Homo sapiens: one gene and its partner. The protein of the gene in region 1 interacts with the protein of each later gene in a pairwise test. Each region holds a gene or a part of one and is shown in the gene's direction. Other genes may lie near its edges. The genes, in order: CAP2 and DSCAM.

The links.
Region 2: the proteins of CAP2 (region 1) and DSCAM interact in a two-hybrid assay, tested with the Homo sapiens proteins (one large-scale study listed by BioGRID and IntAct).

Annotation. Positions count from the first base shown.
Region 1 is NC_000006.12:17,396,590-17,400,410, forward strand, and holds part of CAP2 (adenylyl cyclase-associated protein 2), read left to right. Parts: intron 1-3,821. UniProt on the Homo sapiens protein: Involved in the regulation of actin polymerization.
Region 2 is NC_000021.9:40,840,552-40,844,372, reverse strand, and holds part of DSCAM (cell adhesion molecule DSCAM isoform CHD2-42 precursor), read left to right. Parts: intron 1-3,821. UniProt on the Homo sapiens protein: Cell adhesion molecule that plays a role in neuronal self-avoidance. Promotes repulsion between specific neuronal processes of either the same cell or the same subtype of cells.

The DNA of each region.
Region 1 (3,821 bases):
ACCAAGGAAATGTATACAGCTAGAAAGTAGATTTTTTGTTGCTTAGGGCTGAAGGGGCTGGAGGTGGGTTGAGTAGGGAAGTGATAGATAAAGGTCACAGGGTTTCTTTTTGAGGTGAAACATGAAAATATCCTCTAATCGACTATAGTGATAGTCGCACGTATCTGTGAATATACTAAAAACCATTGAGTTGTACACCTTTAATGGGTGAATTGTGTGGTATGTGAATTACATCTCAATAAAATTGTTAAAGAAAATAAACAGAAAACTAGGGGAAAAAGTACTAGATTGTTAGTATCCAGTTGCATCTTTGTGTTTTTCCTCTGTGCCTGCTCTCATGTCCCTCCCAACCCTGAATTTTGTGTTAATCATTCCCTGGTTTATTGTAAAACAGTTTTATCACATGTGTATGTATTCCAAAACAATAGTGTTTAGGTTTGTTTTTTTGGTTTATGAAAAAAGGTATTTATAATCTCGCATTCTCTTTTGAGATGGAGTCTCTCTCTGTCGCCCAGGCTGGAATGGAGTGGCACAGTCTCAGCTCACTACAACCTCCGCCTCTCAGGTTCAAGAGATGCTCCCGCCTCAGCCTCCTGAGTAGCTGGGATTACAGACGCGGGCCACCATGCCTGGCTAATTTTTGCATTTTTAGTAGAGAAGGGGTTTCACCATGTTGCCCAGGCTGGTCTCAAACTCCTGACCTCAGGTAATCTGCCGTTCTCGGCCTCCCAAAGTACTGGGATTACAGGCCTGAGCCACCGCACCCAGCCTAATCTTGCATTCTTAAAATTCAACATTAGGTCATTAAGAATTACCCACATTGGGCTGGGCGTGGTGGCTCACGCCTGTAATCCCAACATTTTGGGAGGCCGAGGCGGGCGCATCACGAGGTCAGGAGATCGAGACCATCCTGGCTAACGTGGTGAAACCCCATCTCTACTAAAAAATACAAAAAATTAGCCGGGCGTGGTGGCGGGCACCTATAGTGCCAGCTACTCGGGAGGCCGAGGCAGGAGAATGGCGTGAACCCGGGAGGCGGGGCTTGCAGTGAGCCGAGATCGCGCCACTGCACTCCAGCCTGGGCGACAGAGCGAGACTCCATATCAAAAAAAAAAAAAAAAAAAAAAAGAATTACCCACGTTGTTGCATGTAGGTATGTAATATTTCTTGGCAAATATTCCATGATTTATTTCACCATTCTTGTTGACAGGCATTTGGGTTGGTTCCCATGTTTTGCTATTACAAAGAATGCTGCTTTGAAGACTTTTTTTCCATGTGTCTTGGCACACATGTGCAAGAGTTCTTCACTGTGAATGTGCCATGTATTTTAATGGGAAAAAAAAAAAAAGAAAACCTGATTCTCCTTTGACTTACACATTGATGGCATGTAACCACTTACTCATTTCCCCAAACCAAGATAAAATGATTAGATCTGACATTCTGACTTCTCATCCTATTTACATTCTAGTTGTAAAAGTATTTCCCAACGTTTTAAGAAGTGTGGAAAATCTAAAATTTCACAACTCAATTTCACAGCAGAGCCTTTTAACCCGGTCACTCACGGACATCTTCATCTCCTTATATCACCTGGGTTTAGGATGAGAGGGAGGACAACTTTATTATTACATCAAAGGAACATTACTTTAATCAAAGTACATGAATAGTTACTAAACCTCATTAAAAGTTGCCTCGTATTGTATATCCTGCGGAGTGGTCTAGTATTTCCGATGTGATTTAGTTAGGTAAGTCTGATAACAATGAGCCTTGGGCAGATCTAGATCTGTCGTTGAGTTAGGCAGTGAGTTTTGCCATTCATTCAGGATATTTCTCCTTGAACTTAGAAGGAGGAAAGCACCTTAAAGTCAGAACAAACCATTATGAGGAATTTTAAAATTACTTTTACTATTTTAAGATATATATAAAATTTACGATTTTAAACTTTTTTTTTTTTTTGAGACAGAGTCTTGCTCTGTCGCCCAGGCTGGAGTGCAGTGGCACGATCTCCTCTCACTGCAAGCTCTGCCTCCTGGGTTCAGGCCATTCTCCTGCCTCAGCCTCCCAAGTAGCTGGGACTACAGGTGCCCACCACCACGCCCGGCTAATTTTTTGTATTTTTAGTAGAGACGGGATTTCACCGTGTTAGCCAGGATGGTCTCAATCTCCTGACCTCATGATCTGCCCACCTCAGCCTCCCAAAGTGCTGGAATTACATGCGTGAGCCACCGTGCCCGGTCCGATTTTAAACATTTTTAAGCATACTATTCAGTGGCATTAAGCTCATTCTCACTGTTGTGCAACCATTATTATTGTCCATCTCCAGAACTTTTTCATCATCTGAAACTGAAACTTTGTACCCACTAAATATAACTCTGGATTCTCCTCTTCCACAATCCATGGCAACCACCATTCTACTTTCTGTCCCTGAATGTGCCTATTCTAAGTACCTTATACAATATTTGTCCTTTTGCTACATGAGCTTTGTTTGTTTGTTTTTGAGACAGTCTCGCTTTGTCACCCAGGCTGGAGTGCAGTGGCACCATCTCGGCTCGCTGCAACCTCCGCCTCCCAGGTTCAAGTGATTCTCGTGCCTCAGCCTTCCCAGTGCTGGGATTACAGGCGCTTGCCACCCCACCCAGCTAATTTTTATACTTTTAGTAGAGACAGGGTTTTGTCATGTTGGCCAGGCTGGTCTTGAACTCCTGACCTCAGGTAATGCACCTGCCTAGGTCTCCCAAAGTGCTGGGATTATAGGGATGAGCCACCACGCCCGGCCTACATGAGCTTTTATATCCAGGGGAATTCCATCTTGTTTTGTTTCTGTCTTTAGTAGACACTTTTCCCACTTTAGGAAAATAATGGCTTCTTTCACTGAGAAATTATGTGAAGGGATTGTTTCCCTTTCAGTATACAGCCCTATACAGAAAGGGACATAGGACATTGTCTGAAACCAGAAGAAGAAATTATGACTATTATGAATGGGGTCTTCATCTGCCCTGTCTAGTTAATTAGGCATCTAATAATCCTGGCTTCTCATTGAACACTTAGCCACCTGCAGAAGGTGCACTAGCCCCTAATTCTTAAAATTTCACATTTACCTGATACATGGAGGAAGTAAATAACCTTTGATGTTCCTGTTAGCCCTCAGCTTTTCAGAATGTAAAGGCCATTCTGCAATATAGAAGTCTGATCTAAAATCTCTTTTGTTTTGATGGGAAGGGGTATTCTGAGAGGCTGAAGGAGGGTTCCAAGAGGCTGAACATAGAAGGGAGGTAACCTAAATGGCAGTTCTGAAGAGGAAGATGGTTCCTGGGGAAGTTAGATGCTGGAGACACCAAAGACAGACCTGTAGTGGCCGGGCATGGTGGCTCACGCCTCTAATCCCAGCACTTTGGGAGGCCAAGGCGGGTGATCACAAGGTCAGGAGATTGAGACCATGCTGGCTAACACGGTGAAACCCCATCTCTATTAAAAATACAAAAAAAAAAAATTAGCTGGGCATGGTGGCACGTGCCTGTAGTCCCAGCTACTTGGGAGGCTGAGGCAGGAGAATCGCTTGAACCCGGGAGGCGGAGGTTGCAGTGAGCCAAGATCATGCCACTGCATTCCAGTGTGGGCAACAGAATGAGACTCCATCTCAAAACACACACACACATACACACACAAAACAGACCTGTAGTACATAGACAGCTTTGTTGTCCTATTATTATGCACAGTTTAATGAGAAAATAACCTCTGTTACTTTGCATCATTCCATTTGGAGATCCAGAGAAATTCTGGGATCCATTGGTTGACTTACTCCCCCTATGTTGAGTGACTGCTAT
Region 2 (3,821 bases), on another chromosome or scaffold:
TGAAAACATTAAAAGCCTGCTGTAAAGCTTTAGGATCTTTGAAGGGGGGAGGGGAAATCAGCTTTAAACAGTTTTCTAAGGTATGGTGTTCATTACATACTGGGGAAAGGATCATAAAATATATAGACATGTTGAAATAAAATAAGAATCCAGTTTGGAACTATGCCTGTTTGTAAGACCATATTTCAAAAATATAAGAGTAAATGGTTTCTACCTATCTGAATTAAACTTTAAAAAATTGAGAATATTTTTGTCAACAACTGTCATATTTTGTTATACCTCAACTTTGAAAAATTTCTGAATGTGTGTGATAAAAGATTGATGAATTCTAATACCTAAACTGATTATTGCTAGGCCTCAAGCATCAAAATGCCTGACATGATAACTTTTTTTTTTCATTTGTAAAAGATTATGTAGTTTAATATTTGGGGCTATTAAAATAAGCCCACAATACATCTGCATTTTAACAGTAGACAACAATATTTTTCTTATTGATGTATCAGAAGTACAGTTATTTCTTAATAAAAGTATGGTTGCTAGACAGGCTGCAGGCAGTATTTTTGAAAAAAAAAAAAAAAAAAAGAAGAAGTCAGTGACCAGGCCCTTCATAGGTTAAACCCTTAAATGAATGACCTCACCTGATGAGGTGCAGTATCGTGTTTTAAAGCAGTCAATTTGTTCTGCAATGTTCTGGAAATACACGCGAGCTTCTGTTACAGTGCAAGGAGCCAAGGTACACGTATGTGCAGACACTCACCCACACACGTCCCTCGGTGTCTTCTCAGCAAAGCTTCCTACTGCATTGTGTTTCATTACCATTTCTCCTGGTTTTAACCCCAGAGCACATTCTAGTTTAAAATTATTGCTAAAAGAAGAGCCAGGCCTTCAGACAAACAGAATGATGAAGAATTAGATTTATTATATGTAATATAGTTTTGCTAGTATCCTGGCATCTCTGTTTTTACACACACACACACACACACACACACACACACACACACACATGCATGCATTCCTGACATCATCTTTTCCTGAGCTGTGGGATTTTCAGTTCTACTGCATCCGCTTTCATGGGGCCTGAGGGTCATGGAGATTAGAGACGGTGGGGTGCTGGGAGTAAGAAGGTGCTCATTAAAGAGAAGATGAGTATGCAGCACCTTTGAGCTTCATCCATTCACTTGATAGGAAATTACAGAGCACACGCTTGCTATTTTATTTAATTAGAAGCAGACCTTTGTAAATACAAATGCACCTTAAGGACTTCAAAGGTGATTTTTATTTAATTCACATAAATGTATGTAAGGAAGAAATGTTATCAGGTGAACAATTTCAGGGCTGCCTCCACTTCCCTTTCTCCCCCATCTTTATTAAACAGATTAAAAAGCTATCCATAATCTCAGGGTTCACCTAAATTCCGAGGCCTTTTAACTTAAGCTGCATGCCCCTCCAAGATGCCCTCTGTAGGAAAACAAAATGCCACGCAGACCTTCAATAAATGCCAGTGGATCGTTCTCCACTTTTTGACTCTCTCCTTTGTCATTTTGGTGTGACCACGGTTTGCTGCCTCGGGGGATCAGTGAGTCACGGGGGGCAGAACCAGCGCAATACAGCATTCTGGTAGGGGAACTAATTTTGACTAAAATATTTGCCAATTCTAATCCCCAATTCCTGGACCTCCGGGTAGCTGGCAAGGTATTTTATGTTAGATGTGTCTGGAGTAAGGTGCACGGAGTATTTCGACAAGAGACTCAATTCAATGCGTATTAAAACTTGATTGAGAGAGGGAGAGAGAGAGGTCATTTTATAAAGAAAGACCTGTGAACACTGTAGATTGGAAATTTATGTTTGCAAAATAAAAGGATGGGTTTATCAAGTGGATGCATTTACAAAATGTGGCATCCAGGTTTCGTAAAATTAGCTGAATTCTACGGGTAAGATTATGAATGTGGCTCATAAATAATTAATAGGTAGTGAAAAAGAATGTATTTTGCATTAGGCAGTGCATTCAATAGTATTTCGGAAATGAGCACTTCGATTTCCTCGGTTTCCATGCGTGGCCCACCTCTCCAGAGCAGGGCAGGCACCCAGGGGTGTGCCCACACAAACAAGCGCGTGTGGGCATTTTCTTGGCTGCTGCGCTGAAGTGCACGCTGGGCCTTGGTGCCCGCACCCTCAGCCTGGGAGATAGGGAGGTGGTGCTACCTGCAGGCCGATTGTGTCCCCGCCATAGGACACTAGTGGGCGGCAAACCTCACAAGACTCTTGCAGCCAGCCTTCAGCAGAGCCAGCAAACCCAGCCGCCACCGAGGGAGGACTGCTCCATGCAGATGGTCAGGGGCTTTCTTCTGAAGACGCCTCCCCCACGATCTCTCAAGTTCACTGCGCCCAAACTCCGGCGTCGTAGAGTTCGTCTAACAGGAACCGGGCAAAGGCAACCGCAGGTCAGGCGAGGTCCAGCAGCCTTTGTTTTCAACTGTACAGCGGAGGACCGTATTCACAGCAATATCTAGAAACCTAGAAGGTGCCCAGAAAGGAAACACAGGTGTTGCAGCGGGTAGCGGGCCCGCAGAAGGGTGCATTTGCACCCCCTTTCCAAAGCCGCGAGGGAACCCCGGCGTGGCGCGCGCCTCGGAGGTGGCAGCTCCGGGAGCAGCTCCGCGCCTGATTGGCTGACCTTCCAATGTCATTCCAGGAGCCGCCGCTTCTCCTGCTGATGGTGACAGGGGTGATGCTGACGTGCCCGCTCCTCCGCAGTCCATCAATCTCCGCAGGCAAGGCTCCGGGACCGGGAGCCCCCTTCCCTCTCCCCCAGGCCCACTGGAAAACACCTGTTCCCCTGGACTGGGGGGTTAACTCTTCAAGTTCCAAAGACCTGGGCACAAAAATGCTCATCTTATCTCTCCGCGCCCCTCCCCCCAACTATATTTATGTTCTTTTCTTCAATGTTGTGAAAATGCCAGAAAATTCAAAGTTGCATTTCCCTTGCCGAATCTATGGGTTAAGATAAGGCAGTGGGAATGGAAGATTCCAGCAGCCCCACGGAGTATCCACTATGTCGTTCTGAATTCAAAGGGTGGAGCACACGGATGTTTTCTGCAGGTGACGCAAGGTCTGTCAAGGTGGCAGGAGGGAAGCAGGGACAGGATTTTGGTTCAGAGGTCAGACAGCTTCTGACCAGGACGTTCAGAAGGGTTGGGTTTCACAAATCTGCTCCTGAAAATCAGTTCCCTCCATATTATCCTTTTTCTAAAAATCTTGGCTGTTTCCTTGATGGAGTCTGTGGTAATCGTTACGCCTGCATTTAGGTGATGCTGATTTGGCTAGTGACTGCCTCTCTCACTAGCTAGACAGGAGCCTCCATAGTCTGAAATGCGTGCGAAGCCTGAGCGTGTCCTTAGCACAGAGCAGAGCACATGGTATGGAGTAGTGGAAATAGATGATGTTCCTTACGGAGTGAAAGGAAAAAGTGATAGGCAGAGCCTTTCTCCCCTCCTTAACTCCTGTCCACCTTCCTCCCTCCCGTCCACCTCTCTCTTCTGCCTCTAGCTGATTGGCTCCCCCTCTTAGTTTGCTTTCCTGGACTTGCTCTCCTGGTCCCTATCTTGCATTCTGACTAAACCACTGGACTCTTTTGCTCTACCCACCTTTTTCTGTCGTAGTGACTCAATCACGGTAGAAATGTTTATTTTCCAGAAACGCCTGTGGCTTGGGGCATTTTCTTCTCTTTTCAAAAAGAGATTCATATTTCGAGTATCTGATGGGACTTCATCACTGTTGCACAACAGCTATGTAATTGCTTTAGGTGCTCTTCCTGCCGTGCA